Linked DNA regions of Homo sapiens. The protein of the gene in region 2 interacts with the protein of the main gene of each other region in a biochemical or structural test. Each region holds a gene or a part of one and is shown on either strand. Other genes may lie near its edges.

The links.
Region 1: the proteins of HECW1 (region 2) and UBE2J2 form a complex in vitro, tested with the Homo sapiens proteins (one study listed by BioGRID).

The regions. Positions count from the first base shown.
Region 1 is NC_000001.11:1,265,142-1,280,226, reverse strand, and holds the start of UBE2J2 (ubiquitin-conjugating enzyme E2 J2), read left to right. Parts: upstream 1-6,372; 5' UTR 6,373-6,561; exon of another isoform or gene 6,562-7,374; intron 7,375-12,234; coding exon 12,235-12,365; exon of another isoform or gene 12,366-12,457; coding exon of another isoform or gene 12,458-12,494; intron 12,495-13,936; coding exon of another isoform or gene 13,937-14,129; intron 14,130-14,636; exon of another isoform or gene 14,637-15,085. UniProt on the Homo sapiens protein: Catalyzes the covalent attachment of ubiquitin to other proteins. Seems to function in the selective degradation of misfolded membrane proteins from the endoplasmic reticulum (ERAD).
Region 2 is NC_000007.14:43,103,098-43,118,381, reverse strand, and holds the start of HECW1 (E3 ubiquitin-protein ligase HECW1), read right to left. Parts: upstream 5,736-15,284; 5' UTR 5,475-5,735; coding exon of another isoform or gene 5,445-5,474; intron 4,379-5,444; exon of another isoform or gene 4,226-4,378; 5' UTR 4,114-4,225; coding exon of another isoform or gene 3,991-4,113; intron 487-3,990; exon of another isoform or gene 1-486. UniProt on the Homo sapiens protein: E3 ubiquitin-protein ligase that mediates ubiquitination and subsequent degradation of DVL1. Also targets the mutant SOD1 protein involved in familial amyotrophic lateral sclerosis (FALS).

The DNA.
Region 1 (15,085 bases), on a different chromosome or scaffold from region 2:
TCCCAAAGTGCTGGGATTACAGGCATAAGCCACTGCGCCCAGCCTAATTTTTGTATATTTTTTTAGTAGAGATGGGGTTTCACCATATTGGCCAGGCTGGTCTTGATCTCTTGACCTGGTGATCCGCCTGCCTCGGCCTCCCAAAGTGCTGAGATTACGGGTGTGAACCACTGCGCCCGGCCACCTTTTTCTTAAGACAAGGAGAACGACTCCCTTTTGGGTACCCCATTTGGTTTCTAGCTCGGACGTGCGTTCCTAAGGGTCTTCTCTGTTGCTTTTTCTCCCAAAATTAAGCCCAACTGGCTTGTGCGTGCATTTGCATGAGGAACTGAATTGTTCTTTGCATAGATAAATGAGAGACTGAGTTTTCTCAGCTCCAGAAAGAAAGGCATTTTGCTCCTCCCAGCTGAAAGGCGCCCCTGGGTGACTGTGAGCCAAGTGGGAGTATCTCGTGGGCTGATCCCCCACGACGTGCAGCAGCCCCACAGGGAACCCCCCAACACAATTAGTTTAAAAAGGTTTGTCTGCTGGGTGCAGTGGCTCACGCCTGTAATCCCAGCACTTTGGGAGGCCGAGGCGGGTGGATCACGAGGTCAGGTGATCGAGACCATCCTGGCTAACACGGTGAAACCTCGTCTCTGCTAAAAACACAAAAAATTAGCCGGGCATTGTGGCGGGAGCCTGTAGTCCCAGCTACTTGGGAGGCTGAGGCGGGAGAATGGCGTGAACCCGGGAGGCAGAGCTTGCAGTGAGCCGAGATCGTGCCACTGCACTCCAGCCTGGGCGACAGAGCGAGACTCCGTCTCAAAAAAAAAAAAAAAAAAAAGGTTTGTCCAGGAAATGCACATAGGAGCTGGTCACTCTGTGTTTTGAGTCCTCTCGGAGGTGTTGGACTTCTAGAGAGAGAAACAGAGACACGTAAGAGGGCGAAGATGCCTCAGTGGTGACACACTGGGGAGTCCCGCCCACGACCCGTCCACGACCGGCACACTCAACCTGCTCCACGGAACCCCATTCCACAGCTCGGTTCCTCTGCGCCCCACCTGCTCCACGGAACCCCAGTTCCTCCATACTCAACCTGCTCCACGGAACCCCAGGCCACAGCTCAGTTCCTCCGCGCCCCACCTGCTCCATGGAACCCCAGGCCACAGCTCGGTTCCTTTCAAGAAAAAAAAAAGTGGGAAATAAATAATGTAAGCCTCAGCAAAGACAAGAGGGCGACCTCCTTCCAGGCACCCCGCTGGTTTCAGGCGCCTCTACCTGCAAGTGTTGGTATAAAACTGAACATGTCGCGGGCATGCTGGGTTTCCTAGTGCCCCAGCTGGTTCCATATTATGGTCTTTTGGGGCACATTTTAAACTGATGGGCAAATTCCATCCAGGAAAAATTCAGAGCCCAAAGGTCAGCCTGCAACTACAGAACCATAGAGTTCCTGGCCAGGCGCAGTGGCTCACGCCTGTAATCCCAGCACTTTTGGAGGCCAAGGCGGGCGGATCACCTGAGGTCAGGAGTTCGAGACCAGCCTGACCGACAGAGTGAAACCCCATCACTACTAAAAATACAAAAATGAGCCGAGCGTGGTGGCATGCACCTGTAATCCCAGCTACTTGGGAGGCTTAGGCAGGAGAATAGCTTGAATCTAGAAGGCGGAGGTTGCAGTGAGCTGAGATCGTGCCATTGCACCCCAGCCAGGGCTGCAAGAACAAAACTCTGTTTCAAAAAAAAAAAAAAAAAAGAACTATAGAGTTCCTAAGTTCTCTATCTCTCTGTTTCCTTTGCTGCCTGCCTTAAAGCTGCTGTTACACTTTTTGTTTTTTTTAGGTAGAGTCTCACTGTGTTGCCCAGGCTAGAGTGCAGGGGTGCGATCTCGGCGCACTGCAAACTCTGCCTCCTGGGTTCAAACGATTCTCCTGCCTCAGCCTTCCAAGTAGCCAGGATTACAGGTGTGCGCCACCACGCCTGGCTAGTTTTTGTAAATTTAGTAGAGACGTGGTTTCACCATGTTGGCCAGGCTGGTCTTGAACTCCTGGCCTGAGGCAATCCACTCACCTTGGCCTCCCAAAGTGCTGGGATTACAGTTGTGAGCCACCGTGCCTGACCAGCTGTTACTTTTCTACTGAGATGACATCCACAGTTTGCATCTAGATGTTTCTTTCTGTTATTGTTTTTCTAACTAGTGACTTTGTGTTGATATGTCATGGTTAGAGGTGTAAAGCAAAAGCTGTAGGGTTTTTGGATGAGTGTATATGTGTGTTTAGATGTGTTTATGTGTACGTGCGTGGATTCTGATACATGTTTTGTGGCCACAAGGTATCAAAGTGGCTTAAGGAGTATGCATACATTTAGTACATAATAACAAATTTCATGTGACTTAAGTAAAAAATTTTTTTTTTTTTGAGACGGAGTCTCGCTCTGTCCCCCAGGCTGGAGTGCGGTGGTGCGATCTGGGCTCACTGCAAGCTCTGCCTTCTGGGTTCAGGCCATTCTCCTGCCTCAGCCTCCCGAGTAGCTGGGACTACAGGCGCCCGCTACCACGCCCGGCTAATTTTTTGTATATTTTAGTAGAGACGGGGTTTCACCATGTTAGCCAGGACGGTCTCCATCTCCTGACCTCGTGATGTACCTGCCTCGGCCTCCCAAAGTGCTGGGATTACAGGCGTGAGCCACCGTGCCCGGCCAAAAGTATTGGTAAAGTAATATAAGGAGTGTCTTAAAAACTGTCAGCATACATTTTTGTTTGCATTTATTGATTTATAAGGGGTCAAAACTTGGCATAAGCATTGTAAAACTCTAAACCCAGCTGAAGGCCAGGCATGGGGACTCACACCTGTAATCCCAGAACTTTGGGAGGCCGAGGCAGGTAGATCACCTGAGATCAGGAATTGGAGACCAGCCTGGCCAACATGGCAAAACCCCGTCTCTACTGAAAAATACAAAAATTAGCCAGGTGTGGTAGCACATGCCTGTAATCCCAGCTACTTGGGAAGCTGAGGCCGGAGAATCACTTGGACCTGGGAGGGGGAGGTTGCAGTGAGCCGAGATTGCACCATCGCACTCCAGCCTGGGCGACAGAGTGAGACTCCATCTAAAAAAAAAAAAATTATAGGAAAACGTTCTTTCTACAAAAATTCTTATTATAAGGTAAATAATTTTGTCTAATTCAAAGCTTATTTAAAGTTTATGTATAAAATGAGTTAAAAAGAACAAGGAAATAAGAGAGACCAAGGAAAGTTATAGATATAAAGAGGTCTTTTTGTTAAGTAAGGTTAAAAAAAATAATTTTATATGAGAAAGAATCTTGTATGGTAAATTTTTGTCCTTAAATAAATGACTGGTTGTTTAAAAAAAGGGATGTTCAGCACAAACTAGAAAGTCCACATGTCGTGAACGGTCTGTGTAAGCTGCAATACCTTTGGTAAAAAAGGAATTTATAAAAATGTTACATGATAGATCGGGTGTGGTGGCTCATGCCTGCAATCCCAACACTTTGGGAGGCCAAGGAGGGCGGATCACTTGAGGTCAGGAGTTCAAGACCAGCCTGGCCAACATGGTGAAACCCTGTCTCTACAAAAATATAAAAATTAGCCAGGCATGGTGGTGCATGCCTGTAGTTCCAGCTGCTCAGGAGGCTGGGGCAGGAGACTCAATGGAACCTGGGAGGCGGAGGTTGCAGTGAGCCGAGATCATGCCACTGTACTCCAGCCTGGGCGACAGAGTGAGACTCCAACTTTAAAAAAAAAAATTGTTTTAAGAGGTAATGAATGCTGGTCCATGTCCATTCCTATCTGGCCTACAAAATTTAATGGGCTGTAAATCTTTTAACTGTAAGTCCCTGGGTCATAGGGAGTCAAACTGAGGGACAGGATTGACTGAGGGTGGGCAGCCACACTCGCCCAGCAACGCTGAGACACAATAAAGATTTGGTGGACATGGATGTTGCCTCTGGCAAATCTTGGCCAGAAGGGGGTGAATGTAAACCAAAAATTAAATTCTAAGGCCCCCCCAGCCGTCCAAATGGACCCTTCCTCTCAGCCAAGGGCGTTCCAGTGTTAACCTGGGAACTTGTTCAGGCCATGGCGGGAAGGGGTCGTGGGTCATGCCTCCTCCCTTTTGAAATTCAGGAAAAGCTGACTAGCATTAACATCAACACAGGCCTTAAGTCTGATAGGAAACATTAACAATCTATTCTCTCTGAAGCCGGCAACCCGAGGCTTCAGCTGCGTGGAAAACCACAACCCCTTACTGCAACCCAGACATTCCTTTCTATTGATAATAACTCTTTCAACCACTGTCGGTCAGGATCATTTTGAATCTGCCTATAACATAGAGGTCTCCCCACACCACCCCAATTTATCCTGCTCTTTCAGATTGAACCCGTGTAAATAAATCATGTCTCCCTAAAATGTATAAAAGCGAGCTGTGCCACATGCACCTTGGGCACCTCCCGAGATGTCATGGGTGTGTCCTTAACCTTGGCAAAACAAACTTTCTAAAGGGACTGAGACCTTCCTCAGTTTGCACCCTCCAGGCTGGGTTCTCTGTCCCTCAAGCATCCCCTGGCCAGACAATCCCTGCTGTTCAGAGGCAGCCAAGGCTTTCTGGTCCAACCCTGGGGGCTGGAGGAGGTGGGGGCAGGAGGTGGTAACTGGGTTGGGGGATGTTTTCTTGGTTGCCAAAGCAGAGGGTGCCCCCCGCTGCTCAAGATGCTGAGGGTGGTCCCTGTTGTCCTATTCCTGAAGCTGCCAGAGGAAGTCCCTCCGGAGGGCTGGCCCACAGCAGAAGGGCTGCTCCTGCCCTCAGAGGGCAATCTCAGGGTTGAGAAGGTTACAGCCACCATCTGCCACCAACCTAGCTGCTTGTGCCGATCCCACTGGCCAAGGCCATCGGCTCTATGGCTAGAGGCCTGGGCAGCCTGTGTCCTGCTTACCAGAAGGCCACAGATGCGGGTGGGTGGGGTGGTGGGGTCTTGGCAAGACGTGCTGGCCACACCTGTCCGGGGCACCTTCTCCCTGGGGTGTGACTCAGCCATGCTCCTGAGCAGGGGCCTCTGAGTTGAGCCTCGCTGCAGTCTTCCCAGCTGCAGGGCCCCCACAGGTGTGCTGTCATCGCACACTACTGAGGGACAGACAAGGCAGAGCGGGCCTCCATCTGCCGCGGGCCACAGCCGTGAGTGTGCATGCGAGTGGATGTGCTGGTGCCTGTATCTGCGGCCGGTGTGGCTTCCCTCACATAACTTTCCATGCTGTGAAAACAGTTTGGCCTGCCCTGCATGGGAACGGCAGAGGCCTGAGAGGAGGCAGAGGAAGGAGGCTGGATGCTGAGATGTTCTCCGAAGGTGGAGCCGGTGACGGCAGTAATGGAGGCAGGCTGGATTCCCACGGGCTGAGGCTGCGTGGACACTCCTCCTGGCTTCTGCCCCACGGCCTGCAGCAACGTCTCAGACCCACCAAGGTGTCCCAGAGGGCCAGAGTCAGGGCTGAGCATGGACACAGCCTGCCCTCTGCCCGTAGCCACAGCGGGACTGACCCTCAATATTCAGCCACCTTGCTGACCTGTGGTTGTTCCTGAGAGGCAGTCAGGGTTGGGGCAAAGGAGAGGGCCACAGGCAGCCAGGTGGCGAGGTCCACCTCCTGATCCCCCACCAGGGGACCACCCTCAGCTCCCCGCTGTCCTCAGCGGCCTCTCAGGGAGGCGGTGGGCTGCGCGCCTGCCCCCAGCGTCCCACCCCAGCGCCCCGCCACCTACCGCTCTCTCCCAATGTGTCTGGGGTCAGAGAGAGGTGGAGAGGACGCAGCGCCCCGCGCTTTCTGCAGTCTGTCCAAGGGGAGGTCAGGGGCATCCCGGGGCTGGGCAGGCACCTGCAGGGGAGGGTGCTGCGGCGCGGACGTGGGTTGCAAAGAGATGCCACGCGTGTCACTCTCGGGTCCCTGAACGAGAGAGCTCTGAGCTCCCTGGAGCCCAACCCTCCACTGAGCCTCCAGGGGCCCGGGACGCTCCATGCCCGGGCCGCGCCGCGCCTCCCCTAAGGGCCGGGTGGGGCGTGGGAGCGGAGGACAAGGCGGGAGCCGGGAGGCGGGAGGGTCGGGGTTCTTTCTCCACCGGGGTCGCCCTCAGCCGGGCCTGCCGCCCTGGGCCGTGGCACATGGGGAGGGAAGCGCGCGGCTTCGGGGTCTGGGGCTCTCGCGCCCACTAACGGTGCCCGGAGCCGCCCGCCAGTGCGCAAGCGCCGCCCCGCCCCCCGCCCCATCCCCCACCCCGGGGTCGACGGCGACAGAGAGTCGTGGGCGCGGTCCGCCAGTCTGCCTAGAGCGGCCAGCCCTCCCCCTCCCTCCTCACCGCCCCGGACCGCGCACCGGAAGCAGAAGCTAGGCTGGTTCCGCCCCGCGAGCGGCCATCTTGGAGGCTGAGGCGGCGGCGGCGGCGCTGCGGCGGGTTCGGTGGGCCCAATCCCGGGGCGGTGCGGCTGTTTCGGGCGCGGGCCCCGCTTTTCCGCACCCTGCTCCGGCCTCGACTACGGCGAGCCTGAGCGCGGCGGCGGCCCACGCGCAGCGACAGGGAGAGGTGAGCGCGCTCGCAGGCCTGCGCCGGGTCCTCGGGCCCGCTCGTCCCCCCTGCCGGAGCCGGCCACAGCGGCGGCCCGGGGCTGCTGGGGACCCTGCGCGACGCTTCTCCGTTCGCGCCCGCCGCCCGCGGGGCCCCGGCCCGAGCCTGCCTGCGCGGAACCCGAGGTCGGTTACGGCGGGCTCCCGGAGCTCCGGGTCAGGGTCATGTCGGGGACTTGACCACTCGGCCGGGTTTCCCGTCAGCTGGGACACTTGCAGCTGCCCCAGGACGGGCAGCCTCGATCCTGGTTCGTCAGTGGATCACGGGAGTCTGTGTCGGGGGAGGGCTGCCGTCGAGCCCGCCGTCGCCTCGCCCCTGAACTGTTAGACTCCAGACTGCCCCGTAAACCCCGAGAGAAACGAGCGTGCCCGGGACTGTGCTTAGGGCCAGCGTTTCTGGGAAACCCGGGCGGTGACAGTGGGAGACCACCGCCGGCCGGCGAGTGAGACACGAGCCCGGAACAAGTCTCTAAGCGGCGCCGGGCCTCGCCATCCACACCTGCCAGTTCCCTGCATCCTTTCAGCCCCTGGCCAGGTGTCACCTCCTGGCGTCCTTTTCAGTGCCTGCCACTTAGTGCGTGTGTATTTAACTCTAGTCCGGTTGCCATCCTCTTGCCAGACCCAGATAGGAAGCGGCTGAAAGGTCGGGCCTCAGCCCGGTGGGAGGTGGGCAGCGAAGAGTGTACAGCGGGCTTGGCTGGGGCAGGTCGGTGGCCCCGCGCCCTGCTCCAGGGGAACCAGACTGTGTAATCTGGCTTCCGAAGAAAGGATCGTGAGTATCTCGCTTAGTCTAGCACCTGAGCCTAGGGCGTGGTTGGGTCTGGGTGCCCGGAACTTGCAGTCCGTCATCTGCACGGCCTGGCACCGCTGACCTCCTTAGCAGTTCCACTCTCGGCAGGGATGTGCGTGAGTGACAGGCAGGTGAGCCAGGCAGGTAGGTGAGTGCTTGAGTGACAGGCAGGTGAGCCAGGCAGGTAGGTGCGTGGATGAGTGACAGGCAGGTGACCCAGGCAGGTGCATGTGTGAGTCGCAGGTGAGTGTCCCATTTCCATCGGCCCGGGCTTCCGTCCAGCCTCCGGAGCAGTCTGGTGGAGAAGGCAGAGACTTCCCTGGCAGTCCTGGACCTGGGTGTGCCATGCGCCTGGCCGATGGGTCAGGCCAAGGTTTCCTGCCACATCCCCTAAGCAGGAAAGAGCTGTCCAGACAAAGAGGGACGGGTGAGGGACGCTGGGCAGCCACTGCCTCAGCACCTGGGCACAGCTGCCCTCGGTGATTCACGCTGCTTTAATGCAGTTTCTGTGTGTGAACATTTTTTTTTCCTGTGCCTTTTTGTTTTAAAATCGCCAACTCTTTCTCTCAGCAGGATGATATGCTTGGTGTCCTTTGTCTGTGGGGATGTTTGAAGGGAACCCGAGGCACATATGCTTCAAACTCTGTTCTCACAGTTTGCTTCCTTTGTGGAATTTTTTTTTTTTGATACAGGGTCTCTGTTGGCCCAGCTAGAGTGCAGTGACATGATCTCAGTTCACTACAGCCTCCGGCTCCCGAGTTCAAGTAATTCTCCCACCTCAGCCTCCAGAGTAGCTGGGATTGCAGGTGCCCACCACCACACCCGGCTAATTTTTTTTTTTTTTTTTTTTTTTTTTTTTTGAGACGGAGTTTCGCTCTTGTTGCCCAGGCTGGAGTGCAATGGCTTGATCTTGGCCCACCACAGCCTCCACCTCCTGGATTCAAGTGATTCTCCTGCCTCAGTCACCCGAGTAGCTGGGATTACAGGCACATGCCACCATGCCTGATTAATTTTGTATTTTTAGTAGAGACGGGGTTTTACCATGTTGGTCAGGCTGGTCTCGAACCCCCGATCTCAGGTAATCTGCCTGCCTGGGCCTCCCAAAGTGTTGGGATTACAGGTGTGAGCCACCACGCCCAGCCCCTTTGTGAATTTTTGTTTTCCTTGTCCTTCCTGCTGTCATATTGGGATGAGAAGAATTGGGGGAAATAGCCCCCTGGCCTCCTGGGGGACGTGAGAATGCTGTTCTGTGTGAAGCTCAGGAAGAGTGGCTGGGGAAACAGCAGTTGAATCGTGAACATGATTTTAAAAGCCTCTCCAAGCAGGTATGGGAGAGAAGCTTGTTTGTGACTCATTGGATGGAATCTATTTTATTTTTGCGCGGCTGTCCATGAACTTTCGTTAAACCTGCGGCCTGGCCACTTAGCTAAGCCCAGACCCACCTGCACTTGAATTGTCCAGTGAATTATTTTGTATATGGCAGAGTGTTAGCTTCAGGGTGAGTGTCGAAAGGACAGCCTGTGTGGCGGTGCTGCTTGGGGTCATCACTGTGGCCATCACCAGGTGTTGGCCTGAGGGGAGATCCCTGGCCCATTGGCTTCTTTAGCCAGGAGCTGGGGATGCCACTGTGTGGAAGCACTTCCTTCCCAGGCAGGACTGTAACCCCATCCCTGGTGGGGGCCCTCCTGGGGAGGCACTCCTTAGGCAGAGGAACCCGCTGGGGCCCAGAAGGGCCCTGCGTTGTGTGTGGGGTCACATGGAGGCCAGTGATGTGTGACAGAGTGGGAGGCATTTGGCAGGGAAATCAGGGAGGCCTCTGAAGGCGGTGGCTCTGGCTATGCCGGGAAGGGCCTGGGGAGTTTCCAGTACAGGCTAGGCTGGGAAGCAGCTGTGAGAAGGAGTGTGTCGGTCAGGACTTTGGAGTGGGACCTGGGCCGTGCTGGGTCTTGGGAGTTGGGAACGAGGAGGGCTGGCTGGGGCTGCTCTGTCTTGGGAGCTGGGAATGAGGAGGGCTGGCTGGGGCTGCCTCTGTCAAGGGGCTGGCAGGCAAGAGGACGTGTTGATGTTTATTTGCTTGGCTGTGGAGTATCCTGAAGGGTGGATGGGGGAGTGGGTGATCGGAACAGTATGTTGACTTATGGGTACAGGAGGGCCTTGAAATGGGAAGAGACTAGAAGCTCAGACCTTCTGGACCCACGGGGGGAGTTGGGAGGCTCCTGTGGTGTTGATGGGAGAAGTGATGACATTTTGCGTTAGAGAAGATAATGAGAGTGGGAAGGCTGTGGTGAACAAGGATTGCAAGAGTCAGGGACCCCAGAACAAGAAGCAGGGTTGGGGGTGGTGCTGAGGCCACACATTTGGGAGCACGCGTTGGGTGCCCTGGCTGAGCTCTGCACTCCAGGCCCTGGGTGTGTGGGGTGAGCAGCCAAGCCCTGGCCATTGACATCCTCAGGTTGGGAGCAGACACTAAACAGGCTGCTGGTGGTGGTTCTCTGAGGAGGAATAAACCGGTTAGAGAGGCCAAGTCTGTAGATCTCTTGCAGGTGGAGACTGAAAGGAGGTGGAATGTGTGGCTGTCTACAGGTGTATGAGTTGGTTCTCATGCTGCTATAAAGATGTACCCGAGACTCAGTAATTTATAAAGAAAAGGGGTTTAATGGACTCACAGTTCCGTGTGGCCAGGGAGGCCTCAGGAAACTTACAATCATGGCGGAAGGGGAAGAGGCATGTCTCACATGGCAGCAGGCTAGAGAGAGCGGGCAAGAGCAGGGAACACTGCCTTATAAACCATCAGATCTCCTGAGAACTCGCTTTCACTGGAACGGCTTGGGGAAACTGCTCCCATGATCCAGTCACCTCCCACAAGGTCCCTCCCTCAACATGGGGGATTATGGGGATTACAAGTCAATATAAGATTTGGGTGGGGACATAGCCAAAGCATATCAGCAAGGAAACTGGGTAGAGTAGACTTCCGGTTTGTGGGAACTGGGAGGTCAGGATGGAGATCACTGGTCACTGTCCGTTATCGATGGCCACTGATGTCCACAGACGTTATTAAATCGTGTGGCCATGGCTGGGCGCGGGGACTCACGCCTGTAATCCCAGCACTTTGGGAGGCCGAGGTGGGCAGATTACCTGAGGTCAGGAGTTCGAGACCAGCCTGACCAACATGGTGAAACCCCGTCTCTACTAAAAATACAAAAAAAATTTGCTTGGCATGGTGGCAGGCACCTGTAATCCCAGCTACTTGAGTGGCTGAGGCAGGAGAATCACTTGAACCCAGGAGGCAGAGGTTGCAGTGAGCGGAGATCACACCACTGCACTCCAACCTGGGCAACGAACAGTGAGATTCTATCTCAAAAAAAAAAAAAAAATAAGGTTTGAGTTGGAGCTAGTCTGATGCAGCAGGGAGCCCTGTTTTCATCACCACCCCTCTCCCCAGTCTCAGGTGTGGCTGAGGGGCCTTGGGGTCCCTGATCCAGCCTCCTCTCTTGCATGATGATCACCACCCCTCTCCCCAGTCTCGGGTGTGGCTGAGGGGCTTTGGGGTCCCTGATCCAGCCTCCTCTCTTGCATGATGATCACCACCCCTCTCCCCAGTCTCGGGTGTGGCTGAGGGGCCTTGGGGTCCCTGATCCAGCCTCCTCTCTTGCATGATGATCACCACCCCTCTCCCCAGTCTCGGGTGTGGCTGAGGGGCCTTGGGGTCCCTGATCCAGCCTCCTCTCTTGCATGGTGCCTCGCGCCCCATGCTCGGCCTTCAGTGCTGTCTTGAACGTCCCAATGGAGCCACCAGAGTGACTTTCCTAACAGAAGATATGATCTGCCTTGAGGCTTGGACCCCAAACCCCTGTGGGGCCCGGGTTACCGTGGCTCCTGCCTGTGATTCCAGCACTTCCGGAGGCTGAGGCCTGAGAATCAGTTGAGGCCAGGAGTTTGAGACCACCTTGGGCAACATAGTGAGATCCCAGCTCTACAAAAAAAAAAAAATTAGCTAGGCGTGGTGGCATGCGTCTGTAGTCTCAGCTACTCAGGAGGCTGAGGTGGGAGGATTGCTTGAGCCGAGGTGGTCAAGGCCACAGTGACTCCAGCCTGGGCGACAGAGCAAGACCCTGTCTCACGAAAAATAAGTAAATAAACTCTTATGCCCTGGCCCTGCCTCCCTGGCCAGTCTTATCCCTGCCCTCACTGTGCTTGGGCCCTTGCACACTGCACTTTCTCAGGTGTGGCCTGTTCACCTGTGGCCCCTTCTACCAGGAAGACAGCTGCTCTGCCCAGTGAGTGCCTTGGAGTCTCCAGAGTCCTCGTCCCTCCAGCCGCAGAGGCTCCCCCGTTCTGCGGCTCGTTTTGCTTGTGGCTAGTGGTAAATGCTGGGCAGCGGGCTTCCGGGTGCGGTGAAGGGGCCGGCGGTGGTGCCTGCCCACTTCTATGGTGTGGATTCTCCATCAGTGCGGGGTCCTTGAGCTGAGTTGGAAGGTGCGAGTAGCTGCCCTCAGGAGCTGGTCTGAGGCTGTGGCCCGAATACCCCCTCAAGCCCTGTAAATGTATCCCTGCGTGAGTTTTTGGAGGACAGGAACGAGGCTTTGGGTTTCTCCTCGTCTTTGTACCTGAGCTGTACGTCGTGTCAATGAAGGTGGTGGCGGGACAGACGGGAAGAGAGAAGCCGCAGGGCCTCTGGGTGTCTGGGCGGGTGGCAAGCGAGGGTGACCTGTGAGCTGTGACTCTGGGTGACCGGGCCCTGAATGAATGGCGGGCTGCAGAGGCGGGAGTGGGGCTGCGCCAGGGGAGAGAGCTGTGGCCGGCGCTGCTTCTCGTCGTCAGTGTAGACGTTGCTTTTAACAGATGAGCAGCACCAGCAGTAAGAGGGCTCCGACCACGGCAACCCAGAGGCTGAAGCAGGACTACCTTCGCATTAAGAAAGACCCGGTGCCTTACATCTGTGCCGAGCCCCTCCCTTCGAATATTCTCGAGTGGTAAGGCTCCGCGCCACTGATCGCCCTGCGCTGACTGTCGCTGCCACGCAGGCCTCTGCCGGCCCCTGCTGGGCGAGCCTGGTGCCCCAGTCATGGCATTGGCAAGGTGCTCCTGCACCCTCCCCCGGGGTGAGTGGGGTGCCCAGGGGCCTGTGGACACTCTCTGGTCTTTTCCCAATGGACGCATGCCGGGGACATCACAGAGCCATGCTTGACTCAGGCTGGGGCTGGAGAGAATCTCCGGTGTGGGGCCCTTGAGGGGGGCGGGGTCCAGGTTGACTCAGGTTGGGGCTGGAGAGAGTCTCTGGTGTGGGGTCCTTAGGGGAGGGGTCCAGGTATGCAGGGTTCACAGCTGTTGCTGGTGTGCACTCTAGGCACTTAGAGGAGAAACTGCCTTTCTAGACTCTGCTCTTTGCTTCTGGATATGGGAATTAGCCTGTTTTGGCTTGGAGTATTTGACAGGACTAGGGTCCGACACTCCTGTCCCTGGCACTGGCTTGGGCCAGGTGCCCCGACCCTCAGGCTGACAACGAGAGGACCTGTGCCTCATAAGCATTCACCTCATGGTGACTCTCCCCCTTGCTGAAGTATAGAGTGTGAGAGTGCATACTGCTCTGTCGAAACACTGCCATTACAGGTCTGCTAGTAATTTGGTAAGAAATAAAGTGTGAGAGGCCGGGCATGGTGGCTCACACCTGTAATCCCAGCACTTTGGGAGGCTCAGGCGGGCGGATCACCTGAGGTCAGGAGTTCGAGACCAGCCTGGTCAACATGGTGAAACCCTGTCTCTACTAAAAATACAAATATTAGCTGGGCATGATGGCGCACACCTGTAGTCCCAGCTACTCGGGAAGCCGAGGCAGGAGAATCGCTTGAACCCGGGAGGCGGAGCTTGCAGTGAGCTGAGATCACACCACTGCACTCCAACCTGGGCAACAAGAGCGAAACTCTGTCTCAAAATAAAATAAAATAAAATAAAATGTAAGGATGTTTTATATTTTGATCTTTTAAAAAAAAATTACTTATTATTATTTTTTGAGACAGTCTTGCACTGTCACCCAGACTGGAGTGCAGTGGCACAATCTCGGCTCACTGCAAGCTCTGCCTGCCGGGTTCATGCCATTCTCTGGCCTCAGTTTCCCAAGTAGCTGGGACTACAGGCGCCTGCCACCATGCCCGGCTAATTTTTTGTTTTTGTATTTTTAGTAGAGACGGGGTTTCACCGTGTTAGCCAGGATGGTCTTGATCTCCTGACCTCGTGATCCGCCCGCCTTGGCCTCCCAGAATGCTGGGATTACAGGCGTGAGCCACCACGCCCGGCCTTATTTATTTTTTTGAGACAGAGTCTTGCTCTGTCGCCCAGGCTGGAGTGCAATGGCGTGATCTCGGCTCACTGTGACCTCCGCCTCCCTGGTTCAAGCAATTCTCCTGCCTTAGAGATGGGGTTTCACCATATTGGTCAGGCTGGTCTCGAACTCCTTATCTCAGGTGATCTGCCTGCCTCAGCCTCCCAAAGTGCTGGGATTACAGGCTTGAGCCACCATGCCTGGCCTAATTTTTTTTAATTCCAGAGAAAAGATATTTCAGTGAGTTGAAAGGAAATGTGTTTCGGCTTGGTCAGGGGTCCACCTTCTCTGGCTCACAGAGGAGGCCCAGCCCAGGCAGGCGGAGGATACCCAGGGTGAGGCGGAGCCCCTTGGCCACCAGAGTGCTCTCTGCCCCCAGTGTTGAAAATCACATGTGGCCCCAGGACATCGCTGGCAGGTGAGAGGGACAAGTTCCACGGTAGCCGCCTCCTCGCTGGTTGCGAGGACGTCTTCATTGTGTGGGGAAATCCCTCCCCACAAATCTGTGGGTCAGGCGTCCCCAAGTCCCGGTGCAGGTTCGATGATTCACAAAGAATACTCACCATTAAAATTACGGAGAGAAGTCCAGGCACAGTGGCTCATGCCTGTAATCCCAGCACTTTGGGAGGCCGAGGTGGGTGGATCACAAGGTCAGGAGATTGAGACCAGCCTGGCCAACATGGTGGAACCCTGTCTCTACTGAAAATACAGAAATTAGCCCGGTATGGTGGCGCACGCCTGTAATCTCAGCTACTTGCTACTTGGGAGGGTGAGGCAGGAGAATCGCTTGAACCCGGGAAGCGGAGGTTGCAGTGAGCTGAGATCGCACCACTGTACTCCAGCCTGGCGACAGAGTGAGACTCCACCACACACACACACACACACACACACACACACACACACACACACACAATGGAGAGAAAACACACACACACACACACACACACACACGAGAGAAAACTGCAGTCAGCCAGCGGAAGAGGCATGTGGGGCAAAGTCTCTGTGCTCCATTCCCAGCAGCAGGCTTGGGTTTGGACGGCATGTGTGGAATGTTGAGCAGAGAAACTCATTGGAAACTAAAACATTAGGGGAAGGCCCAGGGACTTTATGGGGCTGGTCCTAGGCACCCTCTGCCTGGCACCTGCCAAAATACCAAAATACCAGACTTCCAGGAGAGCAGGGGCTCAGCGTAGCCCATGTTGCCTGTACTGTTGAGGCATTAAGGACAGCAGCGTCAGTGCGAGAGCCCCTGGCAGGTCCTCGGCAGGTGTCTCTCCCTTCCCCGAGAGAAGACTGCTTTCCCAGAAAAGGCCTGTGGGGTGCGCTATGGGCCACGTGGATCCCATCTTCTCTCAGCCGCCCCAAGGCTGCTGG
Region 2 (15,284 bases):
TTTATGTTTCTCCAACTGCTCTGACTTGAACCCCCAAAGCAAAAGCAAAAGCAGGGAACATCCATGCACGTTAAATGGATGTCAATTTCAGGACAAAATGATTGAATTACAATCCCTGGCCATGGATGTGAATTTTGATCTTTTTTTTTTCTTTCACACACATGATATTTCCCTGACATCTGTGCAATACAAATATATCTAGAAAGTGTGAAATGGAAAATCTGCTTCACTAAATATATAAAAGGGACCCCGAATGAAGTCTCCATGATGGCATTTGTCATCATGGGCACAGATGGCGTCCTTTCCCAACTCTTCCCCCGCCCCCCTGGTACCGGCTTAAGTTCCATCCACCAAATTCTCCCTGCATATCACATGCATAGATGCCTGATAACACCAGGAGAGCCTGTCTGTATGCCACATCCTTATTTTTCAGGCCTCCATATGCATCAAGCTTCAGACCAATAAATCAGGAAAAGTATCAGTTCTGAACAAATAATGCAAACAGTGTATACCACTTGTTGCTATGGGAATCCAGATGACCTAGGAGCTTAGTGATCTTTGTCATATGTTGCCAGTAAGTAATTGCATTATTATCATTCTCCTTTCAGTGCCCATGTCACAGAACAGTACAACTACTTACCAATACCCACACATCCAAACACTGTGGGATGGGATACATAAAATTGCTAATATGCTGCTTTGCTTCCTAAAATATTTAAAGAGGCTTTAAGACACCTAAATGCATGGCATTGAGGTTCCAAATGGTGGTCAGAAAGTCTGTGAGAAAAAGACGTAAACGATAAACAATATCGTTAAAAGATTCGACCTGCTTCTATATCTCATTGTGTCTTAACTTGGAAAAGCAATGGTAATGAATAAACCTCAGAAAGTAGAAAAGATTGAGCTGAGTAAGGAGGTTGTGAAGCTCTGACTCCTGCCTTTGGTGGGGCGGGTGGGGGGTGGCAGTGTACTACTGGCATATGGCTTATGTATGTGGGGGATGTTATAGGAAGTTGAGTGGAGCTAAAGAAGTGGAAAAAAAGAGCAAAATGAGGAACCAGAGAGAAACTGAAAGGGGAATTTGTTGGATGAATTGCAGGGAACACTTTGACCATAAGAGTTATTCAGCTGTGAAACATACTCAGTGGTGAGAATAAAAATGCTTGGAACCTTGGCTATTAAACCCCCAAATTCTAAACACTTTGTACATTTTGGAGATTGCATACTTTTTCCACCACTGCATTCCTCACTGGGAACAAGAAATGCCACAAATCTTTCCCCTTAATATAGTAAATTTAGTTTTACAAATAAGAAAGGATTATAGAAATGTATAAAGAATAGTTTTAACAGAAGGCTCAAAGTAGTTATCAGATAACCACAGGCTGCACCATGTAGCCTTAATTATTTCTTCTCTACATATTGCCAAATTAAATTATTTCTAATCTTTTTCTCCTTTCAACTTGCTCAACTGAATAAACCAACAAAAATAATCACAGAATGGTGATGTTAGAAGTGACCTTTGGGATTACTTGATTCAACTTTCTACTCTTAAAGAAGAAGAAACTAACCCTCAAAGAGGAAAAGTGACCTGAAGAAAACCCCACAGAGCATTTCATACTGTTTTCTCTAAAAGTCCGTGAACATCAAATGTGCCAACGGCTGTTTTACAGAGAGGACATGTGGGTATTGCAACTTCCTGGTTTCCTAATGTAGCTTGTCCTGTTTTTTAGGATGGAAAAGGAAGCAGGTAAATGGGAGAGAAGCAGGTGTCTTGATGTCTGTAAGTCACACCTGTTAGTCTAGAAACCTGCCATTGGGAGACTCAGTCAAGCTTGGCTGGCCCAGGAAGGATGGTTGTCTCTGGTCTAACTGTAGGTCATTTCAGAAGCACTTACAGTGGTTCAATGTTGCTTGAGCAAATAATGAGTAGACATTCCCTAGACGTGTCCATCATCCTAGCAAGCTCTGGTTGATAGAACCAGGACTTAGAGAGAAAGTGGGCAGAAGGGTGCTCACGTCTTCTGTTTAAGTGTGGATTAGAGGTTAAAGTGCTTGGGCCATGTTTCCTTCTAAGGCCAGAGCAAGACAGAACAGAGCAGTTATCAGATAAATTTTGTCAAAATGGATAATCCAGATCATTCAAGGAAAAAAATAAATAACCAAAACCTACAGCATTTGAACTCATTCTCTACGTGTTTTTTTGTTTACTGAGGGTGGGTGGTGGAAGGCCTGGATTTGAGTCCTGGCTCTCGGTTCCCCCTTAAGCATCTTACATAACCTCTCTGATTCCCCCAGCTGACTCACAAAGTGAAGGATTCCTACCTACCTCCTGCCTATACAATTAGAGGGCATTTTTATGACCTGAAATCCACTCAATAAACATTTCTGAGAACACATGATGTACCAGGCAAACTGCTAGGTGCTGGAGAGATGAATATAAACATGTCCTTGTTCTGAAGAAGCTCATCCCATATTTAAGATAAGGAGACTGTGGCACATTTACAACTCAGATAACTGCAATATTGTAAGTGCTATCTTAGCTCTATGAACAAAAAGGCTATGGGAAAACAGGAGAAGAAGTGGTTAATTATGCCTTGCAGGGACTGTAATTTCAGGATATTATTTTGATTGTAACTTAAAACAAATGAGTGCACAACTACGGAAAATTGTGTGGCTAAGCATGAATCAACAAATACCTTGACTATACCTAAATTATAAAAATTACCATAGCGCATGAAAACACTGCCTGCCTGCCTATTTAGACCAATCATTGCTTCACCCATTTTTGTGACAAGCAACAGCGCTAGCAAGTTTTGAGAGCAACACCAAATTACATCAGAGAAAGTAAGTCTCATGCCATTGTCAATTACTGCATAGGATGAAACAGCTATCTAGAGTGTCTCATTAGAAACAAACAAAAACCAATGATTGGAAAAAGTGAATTCTCAATTATCTAAGATGGGGTTGGAATGAATAACTCCACAAAAGGAGAACACCTGTTATCCAATTAATTCAATCTTCTTCTCTTTTCCCCAACCCTCCACCAAATGTTTTGCTATAGTGGACAAAAAAAAAAAAAAAAGACCTGTTTGAGTTGGTGAGTAATTTCACTTATGGGGAAAATGCAGACGCTTGGGTTTTAAAAGCTGCAAGGTATAAAAATAAGCCGCAGATTCTACAGTCAATCCTTGGTTTGCTTGCATGGTTCACGTTATAATTATTTGCCTTTCCAACACTGGGTAACTTTTCTTACTCCTCTGTCAGTTACCACAGAATGCTGGAACTAGAAAGAACGATAGAAACCAGCCAGTCCAACTTCCTTTACCATGAGGAATGAGACTCAGGCTTGTCTTTCCATATCACATCTGGCCTTTTAATATTTCTTTTGTTAACAATCATATCAGATGGAAGCATAATAGAAGGTAAAGCTCAAAGTGATCTTGTAATACATCCATCTTTAAAAGCCAGAGTGTAAAAGGAATCAAGTCAAATGATGCTATATACACAAATAACAGAGCTGCAGTCCCTCTGTATTGATACATTGATGGGCTGTTCCAGCTCCGGATGTGACCTCCCTATCAAGTCAATAATGTCACAATCTAAACAAACTTAGGCAATTTGCCTTCATGAAAAAACTACTCCAAAAAAAAAGAGAACTGTCATTCCACAAAGCAGCCAACTGCACTAGACTGGGATTATAGTGTGGAATTAGTCAGAACGTGGATTATTAAATAAAACACTAGAACGGCCAATTTGCCTGGAGGTCTAGGAATTAAAATAGTGCTTTGTTTTTCCAATGCCACATTCCAGAGGAAGCAGCAAGCGGAGGGAACAGGCAACAGGGAATTCTACCAACAGGGAATTCTACCACAATCTATCTCTCTACCAAACAGGCACACACATTCATACCAGGGTGGGCATGTGGACTCTAATCCCTTCTTAGTGGAAAACACACATTTTTAAATGAATCCCCAATCTAGAATGAATTACCGTAATAGCCACAGCCGGAGTGAGTCTGCTGATGAGAAACGCAGATCTGGCCACCTGCTTTGAGACGCCTTGGACCACAACACTGCCGGGGTCTTTAACGGTTGGCCTTTTCGGGTAGGGCATCTGCCCTCCTAAATCGCGTTTAAATCCCAGGAAAAGAGAGAAGATGCCTCCCTCAATTTTTGAACTATGCTGCTCTTGCTGTATCCGTTTCTGCTGAACATAGCATTGATATCTTTTCAAAGAGAAGGGGGGAAAACAAGGGGAGAATTGCACCACTGCAGATTCCAAGAGAAGTAAGCACAAAACTACAGCAACGTCAAATAATATCTTCTTCGGCAACTAGGAAAATCCCCACATGCTCTCTGGTGTCAGCCCAATGCAGACTGAGGCGCGCTGTGCCCGGAACCACAGGAAGCCGGGCATCTCTGCAGCCTGTGTCCCTGCCAGCTCCCCCTACGCGCTGAAATTCGGCAGGGAAGAAGTTATGGTGCCCAGCCTCTGTGTGCAAGACAGAGACACCGCGCATCATGGCTCTGAAAATCAGCCAAGTGGCCGGGACGTCAAAGCGGCAGAGCAATCAGAATGCCCTGGAGCCGGGGATGGAGGGGCCACATTGTTTGAGCCCTCGGATTTTGCTGCATTGTCACCGCCCGGGAACGTGGGGGTAGCAGGAAGCGCACCTCCAGCCAAAAATGGACCGGACGCATTCCCCCCCCCTCCCCGCCCCGGCAGCTCCCTCCCTGCCTGTCTGCAAGTCGCAATACGGTAGGCGACATGACTGCTCCCGCTAAAACTCAGGTGGCAGGCCCGGCTGAGCGGCGCAGCCGGCCGGTAACAGGGAGGCGCTGGGGGAGCACCCACACAGCGCCTCCTCCCCTCCTGCACCCGTCCATGGGAGCAAGGGCCGGACCTGGCCACGCGCCCCTCGAGCGAGCACCGGCGAGCCCGTGCGGAGGCTCTGGGCGCTCTCTGGGCTAACCACGGGCATTGCATGGGACACAATTGTTCAAAAGCGAGCCCAAGGCGAAGCGCAAATCCAGAGCTTTGGTTCACAAGGGGTGGGTGTGGGCTGGGAAGGGGGATTACGTAGGTCTCTCCGCCCCCTCCCCTGACACCTCCTCGCCACTGGGAGGGCGCTGAGGGGCGGGGGAGGCGCTGCGAACCCGCTTGGGGGCTTCTTTGTTTCTCTCCGTACCCCGCAGGAGGGCCGGGTGCGCCTGCAGTACCCAAGCCGGGGTCGCCACCCGGGGATGCCGGCCCGGACCGGGCGGCGGCGCGACCCAGGCTGACAATTGAACCTCGCGGGAGAAGCGAGAGGGTGGGGAGGAGGGTGGATCTCGGCCCCGAGAAGGGAGGGCGCTGCCGGGGCCTCGCGTGCGGCGGGGAAGCCGCCCAGAGAAGGGCGGGGGGGAAGGGGCGGCAGACAGTGTCCCCGCGCTACGCCCGCTTACCTTGGCAGCCCTGGCCTGGGCACAGATCATGCTCCTGTCAGCGCGCAGATTAGAGCTGGGGGGCGCACGTGCCCCGCATAGTGCACCGGGCGCCTGGGACTGGCTGGGGAGGGGACCCTGGCGACCGCCCGCTCTCGCTGCGCTCTGGCTGCCGGGTGCCCCGAGAGAGCGGAGGCCACGGCCACTGTCACGGCGGAGGGGCGCGCGCGGCTCGGCGAGTGTGTGCGCGAGGAGGGGGCCGGTTCGGTCAGAGTCGCACGGTGTTCCGGCTCCAACAACAGCGCCTGATGCGCGGTAACGCAGCACACTTCATCGCTTTATCCTCCCGCTTGCATCCCCTCCCTCCCTGCCTGCTCCTCTGTGGGTACCAGACTCCAGAACCAACCACAAGCCGGGCTTGCTCTCATTAGCGCTGCCCCGCCCTGCAGCCTCCGCGCACCCCCACCCCCGCCCCCGCGGTAAATATATATCGATTCTTGTTACCGCCGGCCCCATCCTTCCAACACCCAGCACGCGTACTGGGCATATCCAACACCAACCCTGGCTCCTCGGCCCTTTTGTGTGTGTGCAAACAGTGTAGCAGAAAGGATGCGGTACAGACACTCTAGGCGGGTACCCTGTGACAGGTGTTCTTGGCCTCTGTCTTAGACACTTTCCTCGCTTACCTTACACACAGTTAAGAACGCTCAGAGACACATTTCAGGAACCGTCCTGTATTTGCACAAGCACACAAAACATCGTAATGACAAATGCAAAGGATGAAAATCACCCCAGAATATCTATTGTTGGGCAAACCTAGCTCCCAAACCGCGTTTTCTATTACACTGCACACAGTGTCAGAATGCTAGAACGAGAAGGAGGCAAAGTCTAGACCCTTCCAGGTACAGCCAACTGAGATGCAAAGAGAAGTGAAATGCTGGTTACTATTGGTGGTTGGCTGCTCCATGTATGCACATTTTTGTGCATCTGGTCGACATTTGGTTTGTGTGTGTTCACATAAAATGCAGAGGCTTTGAGCACATAATCTCTATAGCCTGGGATTTTATGATCCAACCACATTCTCTACAATGCTGATTTATTCCTTCCCATTATTTTGCCCAGCATCCTCTACATGAGCTTTTTTTCACTTTCTGAGAAGTTATCTTCTTTCCCAGACCCCAAACTCCGCCTCCTCTAGAATAAACAAAGGCTTCACCCTGACTTCAGAACTCCTTACTGAAGACCTGAGTACGGACTTGTCAAAACCAAATCTCCTTCCCCTTCCACCCACAGTGGCTAGTTTCTCAGTGCCTCTCATTCCACTGACCTGCCTCTTGGCATTGATTTCACTCTTACAACTGGAACTTTCCAGAACTGGAAACTTTGGACGATGTGAAGGCAGCTTCACCAGCTGTGCTCTTTTCTGCAAGGAGGCACAGCCCTTCTCTTTCCGTATTCCACTTGGGGTGCCCAGTCCTTTCCTGACAGACCCTTTTCTTTGCCTGACAGCAGTCAGATCTTCTGGTCAGATGAGCTCAAAGCAGACCATTTTCAAACCTTAGCTAAGAATCCACACAGAAAGCTGTGCACACATTTCTCCGGATTTTACACTTGGATTAGTACCAACTCCTATATGAAGAAAACTCTCCGAGAATAGACTTGAACAGGCTGTGGCAGTAAACAGCAACAGCAACCAACCATGTGATGTTTCCAACCAGAGACTTGAAAGAAAACAAAAACTTTCACATAAACCAGCATCCATGGTTTCTAAATTAGCACAATGTCACCAAACCACAATAAAGGATAATTTTTTTACCTCAACTAATTGCCAGGATGTTCACCTCATTATTTTCAGTGAATCAGCATCAACTTGGCTCAGAGATGTTTGCTCTCTGTTCTATCCATCATGGAGATGACTTGACAAGTCCACATCTCTCATAGAGGTTATTGATGTAGCAATCCTTGTGGTGTGCTTTATCCTCCCCTGAGGAGTTGCTTTTTTTATACTGAAGACAAAAGATATTAAAATAGCAGTACACAAAGTTTCACATCCTGAGTAGATAAAGAAGCCTTGTAGAGCAGCTTCTACATGTCAGGTGCAATGGCAGCATATACAGACTCCTGTGTATTGTCCCCTTTTATTTTTATTATTTTTATTTTTTGTGAGGGGTCTCACTCCAATGCCCAGGGTGGAGTATAGTGGTGCAATCTCCATTCACTGCAACCTCCGCCTCCCAGGCTCAAGCAACTCTCCCCCCTCAGCCTCCCGAGTACCTGGGAGTACAGGTGTGTGCCACCATGCCTGGCTAATTTGTTTTTTGTATTTTTAGTGGAGATGGGGTTTTGCCAAGTTGCCCAGGCTGGTCTTGAACTCCTGAGCTCAAGCAATCCTCCTGCCTCAGCCCCCCAAAGTGCTAGGATTACAGACGTGAACCACCATGCCTGGCCTGTTTTGTTTGTTATTCCTAACAGTCCCCCTGTAGTCTGGGTAGCATGATCCTATTTTACAGAAGAAAGCAAAAAGGCTATGTTAGTTCTGTAATTTCCTTAAGTCTTGTTTCAAGCAGAAGACCTTGAATCTGGAGTTTACAGATGTCAGCTGCCCTAACCTTAAAGAGAAGAGTATTTGGTGGAGAAAGGAAAAGACATGGCATGAATCTTAAAGCCATCCTAGTAGTCATATTTATTAAGTTTCTAATGTACTCAAAATACTGTTATAAATAATAAGTCACAGTCCCAGTGCGTCCCTCCTAATACTAACCTTATATAATGGCGTAAAGTGAATGTTGAAGGTTTTGAGATGCATATACAAACACCTGTATTATCATAATGCCCATGCAACCGAATCTTCCACCTTTTGTAACTCGAGGCCCAGGAGGACCCAGGGAGGGGGTGACATGCCTGCTCACCTGCTCATCTCAGGCCACATGCAGATAAAGATTAGCAAACAGAGCACCATTCACAAATGGTCCCTACAATGCTGAGAAAACGATAACTTGAACCAATCCGGGGCTTTATCTTTGGGGATAGGCCTTCAACATAATGTCGGAAGTGAACGCACTATAACTAGGGGAGGAAAAAGACCGAGCTGTTGAAGCTATCTCACATAGTCTCTGCACAGGAGCAAATTGTAGCCAATAATACAAGATTGTCATTTGGACTTTCCTAATGACTAATGATGGTGAGCATCTACTTTTGTGCTTCTCTTCCATCCGTCTATCATTTGTAGTAAAGTGCTCAAAATTTTTGCTCATTTTTAAGTGGGTTGTTTGCTTTTATATTGTTCATTTTTGAGAGTTCTTTCTGTATTCTAGATACAATGTCTTTGTCAGATAAGTTTTCTGAATATTTCCTCCCCATGTGTGGCTTGTCTTTTCATTCTCTTAGTAGTTTCTGTCACAGAGTAAATGTCTTTAAAGTTGATGGAGTTCAATGTATCAACTTTTTCTTTCAGAGATCATGCTTTTGGTATATCTAAGAACTCTTTTGACTAACCAAGGTTACAAAGAGTTGTGTTTTGCTGATAAGTTTCAAGATTTTACATTTTACACTTAAGTATTTGGTTCATTTTGAATTCTTATTATTTTTTAGGTGTGAGCTATGGATGGTGACTTTTTTATTTGTTGGCTTGTTTTTGCACATGGGATGTCCAATTCTTCTAGCACCACTTATTGAAAAGATCCTTTCTTGATTGAATCGCTTTCGCAACTTTTCAATAATCGCTTGGTTAGATTTGTAGGGGTCTCTTTCTATATTCTCTGTTTTGTGCCTCTGATCTGTCTTTCTATTGTTTTACAAATAGTACACTATTTTGTAGATGTATACTGCCTTAAAATCAGGTAGTGTGAACCCTCCAATTCTGTCCTTTTTAAACATTATTTTGGCTATTTTCATTTCTTTGCCTTTTTATATGAATTTAGAAATGGTTGTCAATATCTACAAAAAAATTCCCACTGGGATTTTGATTGCAGTTGTGTTAAATTTATAGATGAATATCAGAAGAACTGACATTTTAACAATCTTCCAATTTCTGAATACCTTTCAACCCACAAACTTAGCATTTCTCTGCATTTGTTTAGGTTTCCTTTGATTTATTTCATCAGTAGTTGAAGTTTTCAGTATGCAAATTCTACACAGATTCTAAGAGTTTCCATGTAGATTCTAAGAGTTTCATTTTTTTGGTACTATTGTAAAAGGTATTGATTTTAATTTTGAATTTCACTTTGTATTAAAGTGTACCTGGGATTTGTTTTAATTAAGTATGCACATGCAGACATACAGACATGGAAATGCTTCTCATGAAGGGAGAAGTTTATACTCACAGAACCCTAGAAACAGGAGGCATGGCATACCGCGCAGGGCCACAGGGGGAGCTCCTGGGTCAATCAGGAGGCAGAAGCCTGGGAGAGCATGGCTCAGAGCCTCTATTTTGTATGCTGTGGTACGGAATGGCCAGGCAGGGCAGGCCAGTTTGAGCAAGTCTAGGATTTGATAGTTCCAATAATTTCAGTGGCTGTGGGCTACAGAGGTAGTCTCTAGTTGTCCTGTACTTGTCCCTGGGGAGACTTAGGGCAAGGGAAATTGGTTTGCTATGTGAGTTGGACAAAGGAGGTGGTTGTGGGCATGGACTCTGGATTGGTTGGTTTACATATGAATGGTGGGCTCTCAGACAAGTTGTTTGCCATCTCTAGGAATTAGCTAGCCCTGGGAGGGGCAGTTTCTTCCAAGCCTGCAAAGTCCCTAAGATGTCAAGGCACCACAAAATATGGAAAATAAAAAAACATAAAAACTCATTCACTGGTAGAATAGAAAAAAAATAATTAGTGTGTGTGTGTGTGTGTGTGTGTATTTTTTACGTATCCTGTGACCTTGCTGAACTCATTTATTCATTCTAGTAGCTTTTGTATAGATTTCTTGGAATTTTCAATGTAGATAATTATGTTGTCTGTGAATAGAGGATGTTTTATTCTTGCTTTCCAATCTGTATGCCTGTTGTTTCTTTTTTCTACCTTCTTTCACCAGCTATGCTTTCTATTTATTGCACGTATTTTTTATTTTATTAATTAAAAAATTTATTAATGAGCTTTTACTTTATGATAGGCAGTGTAAATATCAATCACACTAAACTTGTGGTCAAGTTAAACATGTAAGTACAATATGATACAGGTGCTGAGAGAGGGACATGTTATCAGTGTGAGAGGAGCAACCACTCTAATATGGCTAGGGAGGCTAGAAACGCCTCTATTAATAGAGCTTTGAATGAAGAACAGAAGTTTGTTGGGTGACCAAAAGACATCCGAAGAAGAAAGAAAAGCATACATGAAAAAGCAGAAGACAGAAAGAACAGAATGTACTTGGGAATGTACTTGGTGAAGAGTTCAATTTGACTGGAGCAAAGAGAGTGGTGTCAGAGAGAAGACTGGAAGCAAAGGTTTGAGACATACGTGATAGGCCAAACATGCCCTGCTCCAGCTGTTAGAATTCATTTGGCAAGTAATGGAGAACCCTAAAGATTTTTAAAGCCAGGAACGGAAACAACGAGATTTGTCATTTAAATATATAGCAAAAGCCATGTGTGGTGGCATGTACCTGTAGTTCTAGCTACTTGAGAGGCTGAGGTAGAAGGATCACTTGAGCCCAGGAGTTCAAGTCCAGCCTGGGCAACATCATGAGACCTTGTCTCTATTTTTTTTTAATTAAACATAAATAAATGAAAAACATATTGTGAAGCAAAATATACAGTGTATAAATTTTACAAATTATTATTTGTAATACTTTTAGATTATTAATATATGTTGATCAAAAATTAAAATTAAAAATTCAAAAAAGAGAGAGATGTTGATAACAAGTGTCAGATGAGGATGGCAGCTGGCTAATTTGCCCTCACCCACCTTTCCATCAAAATACTTATTAAAAAGCACGAGACTAAGAAAAGTGACACACAAGTATGAACTATGAATGCTTATCAACAATTTATCATATGCCAGAAAGTTTCTCACTAACCTAATCAAAGTGTGTTTAGGCATTAAAACACAGCCAGACCAAAAAAAAGAAAGAAATTAGAAACAAATGCCTTTAGAAAGGTGAAGCCTTCATTTAGGAACAGCAATAGAGGGTGATAATAAGAGTACAGACACAAGGCAAATCACCTGGGTTTGAAACTTCGATCAATTATTTACTTCTTTGTACTCTTCTGCAATTTATTTAAATTCAATTTCCTCATCTATAAAACTACTTATGAATATTTTTACCTTAAAAATTGTTGGCTGGGCGCAGTGGCTCACACCTGTAATCCCAGCACTTTGGGAGGCTGAGGCGGGCAGATCACGAGGTCAGGAGATCAAGACCATCCTGGCTAACACGGTGAAACCCCGTCTCTACTAAAAAATACAAAAAATTAGCTGGGCATGGTGGCAGGCGCCTGTAGTCCCAGCTACTGGGGAGGCTGAGGCAGGAGAATAGCGTGAACCCAGGAGGCAGAACTTGCAGTGAGCTGAGATCGTGCCACTGCACTCCGGCCTGGGCGACAGAACAAGACTCCATCTCAAAAAAAAAAAAAAAATTGTTGAGAGTCAAGTGAGATAACAAATGTAAAGTTTATAACGTTGTGATTAATACGTGGTAGCCTTCAGTATTCCTTAGCTCATTCCATCAGTAATGTTCTTTTCAAGTCCATTTGGAGATTTCAACAGGCTGTAATGTATATGACTAAGTTTAAAAGTGTTTTGAGGAAAGTGAGATATTGCAAATTTTTTTAAGTTTTACTCAAAAAATTTTTAAACCAAATTACACAAAAGTAAAGTGGGCAAAAGTTACTAAAAAACTTTGATGGATGATTTAAAATTTGCAATGAATGCATGAAAAATTCTTAAATAGCCCTATGACCCAATTAAGTGCAAATTAAATTGAGATACCTTTTTCCTCATTTTAGGACTTGTATTTCTCCTGGTAGGAAAGTAAATCATTCCAACATATCTGAAGTGTAATTTGCATTTATGTCAAGGATCTTTACACAGCTCCTGTGATTAAATGTAATGCATCAGTTAGTTATTGCTGCCTAACAAACCATCCCAAAACTTAGTTAACAACCATGTACTATTTCTCCTGAGTCTATAAATCCACTATAAATTGCTGATCTAGTCCAGACTAAGCTGATCTCAGCTGGGCTCCTTTGTGTGGGCAGTTGGCAGGTTTCCTAGGAGCTGGCTCATCTAGGACAACTTCATCTGGGACAACTTGGCTCTGTTCCATATGGTCACTCATCCTGTAATAGGCTATTCCAGTCTTGTTTTCATAGCAGTAGCTGGAGCGAGCGAGCGAGAGAGAAATATGCAAGGCTTCTGAGGTCTGGTCTCAGAACTAGCACACTGTCAGTTCTACCATATTCTGCTGGCCAAAGCCCATCATGAGGCCAGCCCAGATTCAAGTGATAGGGAAAGACACTCCACTCACTGATGGAAGGAACTGCAAGGCCACAGGGTAAAGAGTATGAATACAGAGTGGATGGAGAATAGAAGCCAAAAAACAACAGTATTGTCAGAAATAAAAGAGATAAGAAAACCACACTGGCCAAAATCTGAGCAGGAGTCTAACAATTGCACCCTTAAAATGAAGGACTGAGATTGTATTCTTGGACTGTATATCACATAATCTGACCTCTGGAATCTAGCAGGGATCATACAACATCAAATGAGGTAGGATAAAACTTTGAGCCCTCCTCCCACCACATTTTCTTTGACCAACTTTGAGGCATTCACCTAAACACACCAGGGGTCATCCTTCCACTGTTTGACATTTATCTTCTGAGCTGGCTAAAAATGGTCTTGCAATTGTCCCTCTATTTTTTTTTTCTATTCATCCGCTTAGATCTATATCTCACAGAATAGACATGACAGAGAACATAAGGGCCAGGAAGAGCTACACTGCTCTCTAGAATGCTTAGTCACCCATGATGAAAGCTTTATGAGCTAAAGTGGATCCAGGATGAGCTATGGAAGGAGTGAACACTGGAGCAGGAGTATAGACTTAAATGAAGTATGCTCTTCAAAAACATTGCAAACTGGGTGTCCAGTTTAAATAACCTAGCCTACCAAAGGATGTATACACCCAACCACAATCCTGTAGACCCCTGTTGCCTGCAAGGCACTGAAAGTTACAGTTAAACTGAAGTCAGCAGTGAGGAGGCTAAGAATGTTCCTCTCACCGCACACTCCAAGAACCTGGAGAACTCTCTGGCCATTTGAGGAATCATAAAATAAACAATTTAAAAACAAAAATGGGAGCACTAGAAGTACACCTTATTAAAGTGATAATATTGTTCTGAGAAATTTAAAAAAAGATCATATAGATGAAATAACTTTATGCCAATTTTTTTAATTTAGAAGGTATTTCCTAGATAACTTTATAAAGTTGACAAAGAAAATATAAAAATTTTAAAAAAACTGATGGACGTAGATATACAAAAAGGAGAGGAACAACAAAAATGTAAGAAAATTCTAAATGCAAATACAAATTAAAAATCAATATTGGAGACTGACAGGGAAGAAAAGGCACTATAGAAAATAAAGGATTGATATAAAAGATAACCCTGAGGAAACTACCAAATTCCAGAGGAAAATGACAATGAAATGGATAAGAGAATAAATGCAAGCTATATAGTACAGATAAAGGAGCCCCAACCTTAAAGTTTTGTTTTTCTCAGGGGAAAGAGGGAAAACTTGAACCAAAAGTAAAATAAAACAATCAAAACTTTACAGAAGCAAAGTTTCCTGAGTTGATGTAATCCTTGGGTCTACAAGTCTAAAGAATTCTTGGTATTCCAAAAAAATATATAAATAAATAAAAATCTTACACCTAAATATATAGTAAATTTTAGATTATTATCAATACTGAAAAAATTATACAAGTGACATTAAACATATAGAAAAAAACAAAAGAACAAAAGACTGGCTGAACTGATTTCTATTCTCCATCATCAAATGCTAACATACACTAAAACAACATTTGAGAGTGCAAAATATTTTGTCAGTAAAAATTCTATACCTTCCTAAGTTATTCAGATGTAAAAGCAATAGAAAGATTGCTCAAGATATCGAGGAGTTCATAAACATAATACTCTTGTACCTTCCTAAAAAAATCTCCTCTAAAATATACATCAAGACAGCAAGATAGAAATAAAAATGCAGAAATATAGAACTACAACTTACATATTTTGACTCTGTGTGCCCACCTAAATCTCATGTTGAATTGTAATCCCCATGTGTCATGGGAGGGACCTGGTGGGAGGGGATTGGATCCTGGGGACAGATTTCCCCCATGCTGTTCTCCTGATAGTGAGTGAGTTCTCAAGTGTGTCGCTTTCCACCTTGCTCTCTCTCTGCTGTCACCATGTAAGGTATGCCTTGCTTCTCCTTTGCCTTCCTCCATGATTGTAAGTTTCCTGAGGCCTCCCCAGCCATGCAGAACTGTGAGTCAATTAAACCTCTTTTCTTGGCCAGGTGTGGTGGCTCATGCCTGTAATCCCAGTACTTTGGGAGGCCATGGCTGGAGGATCACTTGAGGTTAGGAGTTCGAAACCAGCCTGGTGAAACCCTGTCTCTACTAAAGTACAAAAATTAGCCAGTCGTGGTGGCTGGCGCCTGTAATCCCAGTACTCAGGAGGCTGAGGCAGGAGAATCGCTTGAACCCAGGATACAGAGGCTGCAGGGAGCAGAGATCACACCACTGAACTCCAGCCTGGGCAACAGAGTGAGACTCCCTCTCAAAAAAATAAATAATAAAAATAAAAATAAACCTCTTTTCTTTATAAATTATCCAGTCTTAGTTATTTATAGCAGTGGGAAAATGGACTAATATAACAAC